Homo sapiens: one gene and its partners. The protein of the gene in region 2 purifies or fractionates together with the protein of the main gene of each other region. This does not show direct contact. Each region holds a gene or a part of one and is shown on either strand. Other genes may lie near its edges. The genes, in order: RXYLT1, SLC45A4 and THUMPD3.

Region 1 (3,752 bases), on a different chromosome or scaffold from region 2:
AGCATATACAGAAAGTAGCTCCCAGCTGTAGCTCAACCATTAAACACCAAGAGAAAGGAAAATGAACTCTGCCAGACTTAGATCAATTAGAAGATTCCTTTGTAACCTAAATACATTTTTAAAAGCTTATCATCAAATTATGCAGTCATTTGCAGTTTGAGGTAAAACAACTCCTTCATTTTCATGGCCCTCTCCCCTATTCAAGATGACATCAACTGCATATTAGTTTTACCTTGTATGCATTTCTCAATAGTAAAACCATTAGTCAGTAGCATCTGAATGTACATTGATACAGTGGGTGTTTTGTGGTAATTATAAGGTAATTACTTCCTATCCTTAAATAATTGTCATTTCCACAAACAAACAAAATAGGATAAACAACAATACAGCATACATAAAACAACTGCCATCTCCCTAAGACACCAGAATAGCCTGTTAATCAAGGAAAGCTAAATTTATTAAATCTACTACAGTAAGGGAGGCCACACTTTGACAGAAGCTTGGCAGTCTCAGAAGGAGAAGGTTGGGGGTGATATTTATAGGATTTGGGGAGTCTGAGCAAAAATGGTTTAAAACAGGTCTTTTGAGGCAGGGAACTGTTTGGGGGATTGGGTAAAGTGTTTGACCTAATAGTTTAGGGTCGGTGCTAGAGTGACCAATTTTACTGATTTCCTAGGACTTTCTCAATTTTAGCACTAAAAATCCTCCAACTGGAGAATCCTTACAGTCCTGGGCAAACTGGGACCATTGGTCACCCTAATTAGCAGACATACCGTCGCAAGACTGCTGGGTAATTTGAACAGTAGTACCAGAGCAACTGACAAAACATTGTAGCCCATCTTCCCAAGGCTGGATACAAAGTTTTCTGAAGCATTCACATTTACAGCCTCTATTTGACAAAATACTGCATGCCTATGTGCGTTCAACTCACATAATAATGAAACTTAACTTTAAAAATGTTTTTATTGCAGTAAGGTATATAAAACATGAATTCGACAGTTTAACTATTTCTATGCATACAAGTGAGTGGTATTAATTACATTCACAATGTTAAGCGACCATCATCACTTAATTTTTTTAAAGGACGTTTATATTCACTCATCTATCAACGTAGTAGGCACTGTCCTAGGCGCTAGGGATTCCATGCAGAGCAAAAAACGTCACAGTCCATGCCTTCACATGGCCTTCATGGACCACCGCGGGTGTTCTTTTTCCCCCGAGTCTTTATGTACTTGGGAAAAGTGGCCAGGGTTGAAAGGTGCAATGAGTACACGGCAGAGGTCAGAGAGGTTCCCACTCAGCCCGGCGTCTGGAAGCAGCGTGGGGTAGGGGCCGCTCCAGTACCCCCTCCTCCAGTGTCGAAGGTGGGCAGGCCCTCGGCCGGGTGGATGAGCCGCGACTGGAGGGGGCGGGGCCTGGGCGGGAGGCGGGCGGTGGGCGTGTCCGGGGCGGGGCTGTACCGGGCGCTGGGCGGAGGAGCCTTGGCTGGGGACTGCCTGGAAACGGGCTGGGCCTGCCTCGGACGCCGCCGGTGTCGCGGATTCTCTTTCCGCCCGCTCCATGGCGGTGGATGCCTGACTGGAAGCCCGAGTGGGATGCGGCTGACGCGGAAGCGGCTCTGCTCGTTTCTTATCGCCCTGTACTGCCTATTCTCCCTCTACGCTGCCTACCACGTCTTCTTCGGGCGCCGCCGCCAGGCGCCGGCCGGGTCCCCGCGGGGCCTCAGGAAGGGGGCGGCCCCCGCGCGGGAGAGACGCGGCCGAGGTAGGACTGGGTCGGCGGCTTCCTTCCGGCTCTGCGCTCCTGGCTGGGGCTGCTGGGCGGCTGGGGCCGGGTCCCCGCACCCGGCTCTCAAGTCCGGGATTACCCGCAGGGCCTGAGAAGCGCTTTGCCCCCTACAGCCTCTCGAGCCAGCCCTTGGCTCGGAATTGGAGAATGGTCCTCATTCTTACCCAGATCTCACACGCCGTCCCCGCTCCCGATCCCAGGGGGTGACAGGCGCGCACGCCTTTCAAACACGTGTTAAAATCCAAGACGTCGTCTCAAATGCCAGAGATTTGCGGGAATGCTCCTGGAAGGCCTCAAAATCGCCGCAAGGTTTAAGACATCCGTTTCCATGTTGAAACAAAGCCCTCTCTAATCCTGCAGTGACCATAAGGCAGACTTTACCTCCAAATTCTGGTCCCCTGTCCTGTGTTTTAACTTGTGTTAAGATCAGACTCGGCTTTCTCTTTCCCTTTATTCAGAATTTTGCACGATAGTATCTAAGACTGGTGAACACTACACTCTGAAGTCAGTTTTTTGTGCATAGGTTACCTGTATACAATGGATAAAAATAATTGCAAAAGTTAAGCTTGTAACTTGATACATATTATCCTGTTATTTTTAAAGGTTTTGTGTTGGGGAAGAGAATTTTCCTGTCTCAAGGTAGCATTTTATTTCTAAGACTTTTCAGAGTAAAAAAAGTTCAGTAAAAAAATTGCTGATTTTCTTTTTTGTTTTCATTGTGTATTACCAGTTTAAATTCAGTTGCTGTACCTCTCAGAAATTAAAGTTAGGATGAAATTAGAACTAACACTTAATTTAAATGATTTGAATTTACCTACAACTGCAATAATACCTTACTGGTAAACACTTACTCTTTTTAAAACAGAACAGTCCACTTTGGAAAGTGAAGAATGGAATCCTTGGGAAGGAGATGAAAAAAATGAGCAACAACACAGATTTAAAACTAGCCTTCAAATATTAGATAAATCCACGAAAGGAAAAACAGATCTCAGTGTACAAATCTGGGGCAAAGCTGCCATTGGTAAGTTAATACGTAGAAGGAAGACATGTAAAAAGCATTATAAAATGTATTTTATTGATATGAAATTCATTTTAATATAATTTATTTCATAATTTGTTAATTAAGGCATCATGATATATTTTTTCGCTTTTTGTCAATAATTCCTTTCTCCTTCCAATTAGACAACATCTGTTTGTAAATGTACACACATACATATTCCACTGTTGGTCTTTAGCAGAGCACAGCTTCATTTATTGATACATTGAGTAGGCTGTATAGTGTCATTAGATTGCAATGCATATGTCAACTGAATTTTCATGAATCTGTGTATTTTTTGGACACTTGATACACAAGTATAAGATGTGGCCCCTGCCCTTGATGGCCAAACACATTTGGGAAACACTGAAGAGTACAAAGTTAAACAAGGTTCTTCATTGCAGGCCTTTCTCAAGAGCCTTTAATATGACAATGTTCATTGTATCAGCGAAGGAATATATTATAGTATGTAGTTGATTAAACTTGATTGACCACAGAAGCATTTTTGCTGTGAATATCATGAGAGTGTAGTGTTCTAAGATATATATTATGCTCAATTAGAGAATGGGGCCCTGAGGGTTTAAAGAGTCACAAAGAATTTAGTGACTTAGAAAGCGCTTTATGTGGCCTTTGAACATGAGTTGGGTTTATGTACAATAAGGCATATGGATAGAAAGTACCAGATGAGAGGAAAATGTACAGAGCATAGTGCTCTGCTCATGGTATTTCATAAATTCGTTCATACTTACATACAAGTATATATCCTAGAAGATTACTACCAACCTCTAAATTTCAAGTACCTGAAACCAGGCCTTCAATCATCAAGTTCTAGCCATTATTTTTTAAATAAAGTCTCTAATATTGATTTCTTCTTTTAAATCTCAGATTTTCATTTCCAGACTTCTCTCTTTTCAATCTGATAAGTGCA
Region 2 (3,652 bases):
GTGGGTTTTCATGCAGAGGACCTGAGCGGCTGCACCTCCCCCACCGGCTCCTAGACAAGGTCCCCTTGTTTAGATTAGCTTAATTACCCCACCAAAATCAATGAACAAGGATCTTTTTAAATGTGAAACTTTCAAAATGTGCTTCTAGTGGCCTTTTCCCCCGAGTATCAAATGCTAAGCTTTTGTGAAATCAGGCACTTTCAGAGGACCGGGAGACCTCTTTAATGTTCGTGGAAATGAATCTTCTCTACCCTGAATCAGGAGAGGGCCTGCCGAAAGGGAAGCTTAACAGGTCATATTGTCATTTTCAACCCCTTGCCATTTGGGTGGAGGTGACAGGAGAAACAGCATAGTGTTTACGAAGTGGCCTCCTTGGCAAGTGACTTTTGGAGGAGGCATTTTAAGAAGATTAAAAACATCCACAGACTTAGAGGGCAGCCGCATAACCCACTTAGTGTTTCATATCCCTGATAGAGTGGCCCTTTGAGAGCCGTGGATGGGTTGCTGTTGTTCCCACCTCAGACGACGTGGGTGTTATTGCCCCAGGAAGACGGGACACTTGGTAGGGGTCATTTGTTGAGTGCGACTGGTTAGATTGCGGGAAATAGCACAAAACCCTGATGATGGAGAGAAGGGCTCTGAGTTCTCTTTGGCTCAGCTGCTGTGTAGCTTGGGGACTTCAGGTGAGAGGGAGAGGAAGTTCTCTCTCTCCCCCCCTTTTTTTTTTTTTTTTTGAGACAGTCTTACTCTGTCACCCAGGCTGGAGTGCAGTGGTGCGATCTTGGTTCACTGCAGCATCCACCTCCCAGGTTCAAGCGATTCTTTTGCCTCCGCCTCCCGAATAGCTAGGACTACAGGTGCACATCACCATGCCCAGATAATTTTTGTATTTTTAGTAGAAATGGGGTTTCACCATGTTGGCCAGGCTGGTCTTGAACTCCTGACCTCAAGTGATCTGCCTGCCTGGGCCTCCCGAAGTGCTGGCATTATAGTCTCTCTCCTTTGCGTGTGTGTGTGTGTGTATTTAAGAGTCAGGGGGTCTCACTGTGTTGCCCAAGCAGGTCTTGAACCCCTAGGCTCAAGTGATCCTCCTGCCCCAGCTTCCCAAGTAGCTGCTGGGTTATAGGTTCATACTACCGCAGCTGGTGGGATTTCTCTTAAGTTAGAGGGGCTGGGCTGTAGCTGCATTATTTTGAGGGTCATCCCAAGGCCCACCTTCCTGTCTAGTGAGGGCTCCAGAACACAAGTTCACTCTCAGAGTCTGTCGGGAGCCGCGGGGGGGAATAGTGCTGGGCATTTTGTCCCCAGTGCAGGAATAAGGGTGCCAGCCAGTCCAGAGTGGGATCCTGAGGCAGCTGAAGGGATTTGCGTAACCTTTCAAGTCATTGAGCTTGGCCATCTCACCCTCCCACCTCTACTGGGCCCAGGCCCCAGTGAGGGAGGTATTGTTCAGACCTGGGTCTCGGTACTTTCATCCTCCTAAACCTGTTGAAGGATTTTGCTGGCAGTGAGAGGAAACTGCATTCCTGAACTCTGGCCCAGAGGTGCTTAATTTGCTGCATTGAAAAGTCCCTTCCAACCTGGGGTTCTGTTATGCTACTTGCTCTGAGTTTTTGTAGTTTGCCCCAAGGTTTCTCTTGGGGTTCTGCCTTGAAATCCTGGAGCCATCTGAATTGACTGGCAACCAAATTTTTCCTATTTCAAAGAAAGGAAAATCTTGAGTGAAAAATGCATAGCAAACCCTTAGAATAGATAATAAAGAGGGATCAACACAGTGCTTACCTGGTCAGGTGTGGTGGTCATTATACTTTTATATATGACCCTTATTGCACAATTTTAGGAAATCACTCAGGCTGGGCACAGAGGCTCGTTCCTGCAATCCCAGCACTCTTGGAGGCTGAGGCAGGAGGATCGCTTGAGTCCAGGAGTTCCAGGCCAGCCTGAGCAACACGGCAAAACCCCACCTGTCCAAAAAAAAAAAAAAAACAAAAATTAGCCGGGCACGATGGCACGTGCCTATAGTCCCAGCACTTTAGGCGGCTGAGGCGGGCAGATTGCCTGAGCCCAGGAGTTTGAGACCAGCATGGACAACATGGCAAAACCCTGTCTCTATAAATACAAAAAAATTAGCCGGATGCGGTGTCTCACATCAGTGGTCCCAACTACTCGAGAGGCTGAGGCGGGAGGATTGCTGGAGCTCAGGAGGTCCAGGCTGCAGTGAGGGGAGATCACACCCACACTGCACTCCAGCTGGGGCAACAGAGTGAGACCCTGTCTCAAAAAAAAAAAAAAAAAAAGACATTGTAAGGCCAGAAAACAAGAAAATAAGAAAAAACAGAAAATAAGTTCCTTATCACCAACAATGTAGTCATCATTTTAGGGAAATACATTTATTCAAGAGCATGGTTTTTGGTTTGGTGTATATGGGAAGGGAATATTTTGTAAGTTTTTTGAGGGGAGGGGTTTGACATCTCCACGCTGGAGATGAAATCGCATATTAAGAGCATGTTAGACACGAGGCGAGGGGGACTGCCTGAGTATCGTAGAGGCAGCTTTTTCACTGTCAGTGATGAATGAATTAGGAATGTTTTAGAGTTACATTGCTGTCAAGCAAAGGCCTGAAAACATTTTTGCTTATGTGTTCTGTAAAATAACTTTACGCCTGCCGCGGTGGCTCATGCCTGTAATCCTAGCTCTTTGGGAGGCCAAGGTGAGTGGATCACCTGACGTCAGGAGTTCGAGACCAGCCTGGCCAACATGGCAAAACCATCTCTACTAAAAATACAAAAATTAGCCAAGTGTGGTGGTGCACGCCTATAATCCCAGCTACTTAGGAGGCTAAAGCACAAGAATGGCTTGAACCTGGGGGCAGGGGTGGGGTCGGGGGGAGGGAGGGCAGCGGGGATGGGGGTGGTGGTGGTGGTGGTGGTGATGGTGAGTGGCGTGGAGGTTGCAGTGAGCCAAGATTGCGCCACTTCACTCCAGCCTGAGCGAAAGAGCAAGCCTCTGTCTCCATCTAAAAAACAAAAAAAACTTTGAAAAACTATAGACACATTTTTAAGTTGATGTTTAAATTTTTGGTCCTAATTTGAAACAACTGCAAAAGATGCAATTTCTAGTATAATGTTGGCATTTAAAAGTAACCATTGTATTGCTTTTTAAAAAGTATCCAATGTTAAATATCCTAATGATACCTACCATCAGTCACCCTTTTAAAAAATGAACAAATTGTTCTTAACAGTCTTGACAAGGCAGTTTTTTTCTTTGTGAACTTGTATGTTTGCTCCATTTGAAAGTCTTTTCATCCCTCATTCTTTTTTTTCTTTTTTGAGACAGTGTTTCCCTCTGTCACCCAGGCTGGAGTGCAGTGGTGGGATCAGGGCTCGCTACAGCCTTGACCACCTAGGTCTATGCAATTCTCTCTCTCCAGCCTCCTGAGTAGCTGGGACCACAGGTGTATGCTATCATGCCCAGCTAGTTTTTATTTTTATTTTTTGCAGAGATGGGGTCTCACTGAGTTGCCCAGGATTTTTTTTTTTTTTTTTTTTTTTTTTTTGAGATAGGGTCTCATTCTGTCCCCCAGGCTGGAGTCCAGTGGTGAGATCATGGCTCACTGCAGCCTCGACCTCCCCGGCTCAAGTGATCCTCCCAC
Region 3 (3,652 bases), on a different chromosome or scaffold from region 2:
CATTGTGTTGGGGCTCAAAAAGTTTCAGATTTTTAGATGTGGGCTGCTCAACCTGTAGTAGGATTGCTACATTTTTAGAGGTGATCTAGTATTTCTTGAGGATTGAATTCACCAGAAAGAATACTGTTCAACTTAAGAAATTCTCTAAGTATCTCAGTATTTATTTACTTCAGCATATAGCAGATGTTTAACCTTTGGTGATGAAACATAAAAGAGATTTTCCTTTTAATTTGCATCAAAAATTCTTGCTCAGAAGTAATTAGGACTCACTCAAGGTAAAAAGTGAAGGTCAGAAAACTGCAATCTCACTATCATAAAGCTGATATATCTCATTACCACATAAGCAGTGAGAGGGCAAGGATTGTTGTCTATTTTTTTTTCCACCAATATATCCCACGCTCTTAGTGTCTGGCATATAGTAGGTACCCAGAAAATATCTGTGGGATGAATTGGTAAGCAAATGTTTTCCATCCAATATTTTAGCCAATACCCTCAGCAGCTTTGTGAAGATAGGCACTATTATTATCCTCATTAATCATTAGGCTTAGGACACATAAATAATTTCCCCAGGGCCACTCAGCTAGTAATCACAGAACTGGAGCTCAAATCCCCTGCTTTTAACCATTGCAGCATACAGTGTACCCTAGAAAGTCATCGAGGAAATATGATACAGCCCACCTGAGTGGCTTCACCTTTCTCTTCTCCCACAAAAGACGTGTTGCCCACAAAACACTTCATGCTTCTCTCTTTCCATCTGCCCTTTTTCCCTTTCTCTAGGGGAAAGCTGATTAGTAACCAAAGAGATGAGAAACTAGGGAGATGGGACATTTTAAAAATACAAAATATAGTTAGTAGCTGCTTTAAAACTATCATTCCTAATTTTTTAAATACTTAATTGTTGATAGCTTGTGCTGTTCAAAAGCTTTCTCAGAAATGTGTTTCTTTTTTTTTCACCCAGGTTCATTGTCTGAGATCAGTTGATAACTTATTTGTGGTGGTTCAGGAGTTTCAAGATTACCAGTTCAAACAAACAAAGGTGAGCTATCCTAAACATGGTGGCTGATTTTTGGCTGTCTTCCACAAAGAGATTATTTCCATTTTTCATAGTCTGTGAAAGTTTAGCATTACTGTAGTCTTTGTAATAGAGAATACTGGGAGGCTTTTACAGTAAAATCTAGAGTTTTGCTGACAGTCTATCCCAAAAGATGTTTTTTGAAAATTAGTATTGAAAACCATTAAAGTTTATAAGAAAGAAGAAAACACCTTGTTTTACTTGTAAGAGATATAAACCTTAGATTTGCTTTGCTTTTACATATATTTAGTTCCAAAAGAGAATTGCTTCCAGAACATGAACCAAAGAACAAGTGACAGTTTGTGTCTTCTACAAATAACACTTCCTCACCATCCTGCTTTTGCTCTGCTTTCTTCTCTTTCTTCATTTTTTGAAATAAAGCCAAAATAACATCTAAATACTCCTTCAGTTGTTAGGACAACAGCTTTGTCTCCAATATGTATTTAGCATCTGAATCCTAAATATTCAGCTGCTGCCTAAGCTGAAGGTTGAAAATAGATTGCAGCAAGGCTTTAGGTTTTTTCCACACTGCTTTTTGGTTAGGTTTCTAGAGTTAACCGCTTAAAAACATTTTTCTATCAGTTTTACGTATCTTAGAAATAATCTTTTTAAAAACAACTGTGATACGCTACCTAATTGTCTAACTTTTATTTATTGGCAAGCATGTTGATTTCCAAAACGTTATTCAAAAACGAGTCAAAGTTGTATGAACCCTCAGCCTAGAAAACAATAAGACCAGACCTAAAAGAAGTCAGACTTAAGGGCCTGGCGTGGTGGCTCACACCTGTAATCCCAGCACTTTGGGAGGCCGAGGCGGGTGGATCATGAGGTCAGGAGATCGAGACCATCCTGGCTAACACGGTGAAACCCCGTCTCTACTAAAAATATAAAAAATTAGCCGGGCGTAGTGGTGGGCGCCTGTAGTCCCAGCTACTCAGGAGGCTGAGGCAGGAGAATGGCGTGAACCCGGGAGGCGGAGCTGGCAGTGAGCAGAGATCACACCACTGCACTCCAGCCTGGGCGACAGAGCGAGACTCCATCTCAAAAAAAAAAGTCAGACTGAAAATAGATAAAAATTGTATTAAGTAAAAATCTAACTTTTAGAAAAGCTTAAAGCAATTCTAATGAGTTCTCTTAAGTATTCAGATGATAATCATGAATTTATTAGTCCCCACCCCCCTCTTTTAAAAAATATTGAGATGGGGTCTCACTATGTTGCCCAGGCTGGTCTCAAACTTCTGGGCTCAAGTGATCCTCCCACTTAAGCCTCCCAAAGTGCTGGGATTACAGGTGTAAGCCATTGCACCTGGCCCCCATTCCCCACCTCCACCCGCGCATATTTTTTTTTTTTTTTTTTTTGAGACAGAGTCTTGCTCTGTTGCCTAGGCTGGAGTGCAGTGGCACAATCTCAGCCTACTGCAACCTCTGCCACCTGGGTTCAAGCGATTCTCCTGCCTCAGCCTCCCGAGTAGCTGGGACTATAGGCATATGCCACCATGCCCGGCTAATTTTTGTATTTTTAGTAGAGACGGGGTTTCAGCATCTTGGCCAGGCTGGTCTTGAACTCCTGACCTCGTGATCCACCTGTCTTGGCCTCTCAAAGTGCTGGGGTTACAGGCGTAAGCCACCGCGCCTGGCCTCCATCTGCCTTTTTAAAAGTATGAACAAATCTGTGATTTATATGGGTTTTTAAAGACTAGTTAATACATGTATTTGGAGCAAACTTGTAAAGACTGAATGGATATAGAGTGAAAAGTAAGTCTTTGTTCCTATATCCTCATGCTATGCAGCTCCCTCCCTGGAGGCAACAACTGTTAGCAATTTCTTGGGTATTATTCTGGAGATATTTTACGAATAAATGTATTTTATTTACACAAATGAAAGCATAGCATACATACTTTTCTGCGCTATGCTTTTTTTTCATATACAAGTTGAGTATCCCTTATCTGAAATACTCGGGACCAGAAATGTTTTGGATTTTTGTTTGTTTGTTTTTTGAAATATTCTGGGTTGGGCATGGTGGCTCACACCTGTAATCCCAGCACTTTGGGAAGCCAAAGCAGGTGAATCATGAGGTCAGGAGTTTGAGAGCAGCATGGCCAAGGTGGTGAAACACCATCTCTACTAAAAATACAAAAATTAGCCGGGTGCGGTGGCGGGCTTCTGTAATTCCAGCTACTCGGGAGGCTGAGGCAGGAGAATCACTTGAACCCGGGAGGCAGAAGTTGCAGTGAGCCGAGATCACGCCACTGCACTCTAGTCTGGGCAACAGAGCAAGACTCCGTCTCAAAAAAAAAAAAAAAAAAAAAAAAGAAAGAAATACTCTGAGGGTGGAACCTATGTATAAATAAATCCAAGATTCATTTGTTTCATATATACGTTATACGTATAGCTTGACGGTAATTTTATATGATTTTTAAAATAATTTATACATGAAACAAAGTTTGTGTACACTGAACCATCAGAAAGCAAAGGTGTCACTATCTCAGCTACCTGTGTGGCATCATGTTGGCACTTCAAAAAAATTTTAGGTTTTGGATTTTGGACTTTGAGATTAGGAATGTTCAACCTATATGTTGG

The links.
Region 1: the proteins of SLC45A4 (region 2) and RXYLT1 purify together in Homo sapiens (affinity purification with mass spectrometry; one large-scale study listed by BioGRID and IntAct). This does not show direct contact.
Region 3: the proteins of SLC45A4 (region 2) and THUMPD3 purify together in Homo sapiens (affinity purification with mass spectrometry; one large-scale study listed by BioGRID and IntAct). This does not show direct contact.

Annotation. Positions count from the first base shown.
Region 1 is NC_000012.12:63,778,366-63,782,117, forward strand, and holds the start of RXYLT1 (ribitol-5-phosphate xylosyltransferase 1), read left to right. Parts: upstream 1-1,543; 5' UTR 1,544-1,595; coding exon 1,596-1,764; exon of another isoform or gene 1,765-2,097; intron 2,098-2,653; coding exon 2,654-2,809; intron 2,810-3,752. UniProt on the Homo sapiens protein: Acts as a UDP-D-xylose:ribitol-5-phosphate beta1,4-xylosyltransferase, which catalyzes the transfer of UDP-D-xylose to ribitol 5-phosphate (Rbo5P) to form the Xylbeta1-4Rbo5P linkage on O-mannosyl glycan.
Region 2 is NC_000008.11:141,301,639-141,305,290, reverse strand, and holds part of SLC45A4 (solute carrier family 45 member 4), read left to right. Parts: intron 1-3,652. UniProt on the Homo sapiens protein: Proton-associated sucrose transporter. May be able to transport also glucose and fructose.
Region 3 is NC_000003.12:9,365,950-9,369,601, forward strand, and holds part of THUMPD3 (tRNA (guanine(6)-N(2))-methyltransferase THUMP3), read left to right. Parts: intron 1-958; coding exon 959-1,036; intron 1,037-3,652. UniProt on the Homo sapiens protein: Catalytic subunit of the THUMPD3-TRM112 methyltransferase complex, that specifically mediates the S-adenosyl-L-methionine-dependent N(2)-methylation of guanosine nucleotide at position 6 (m2G6) in tRNAs.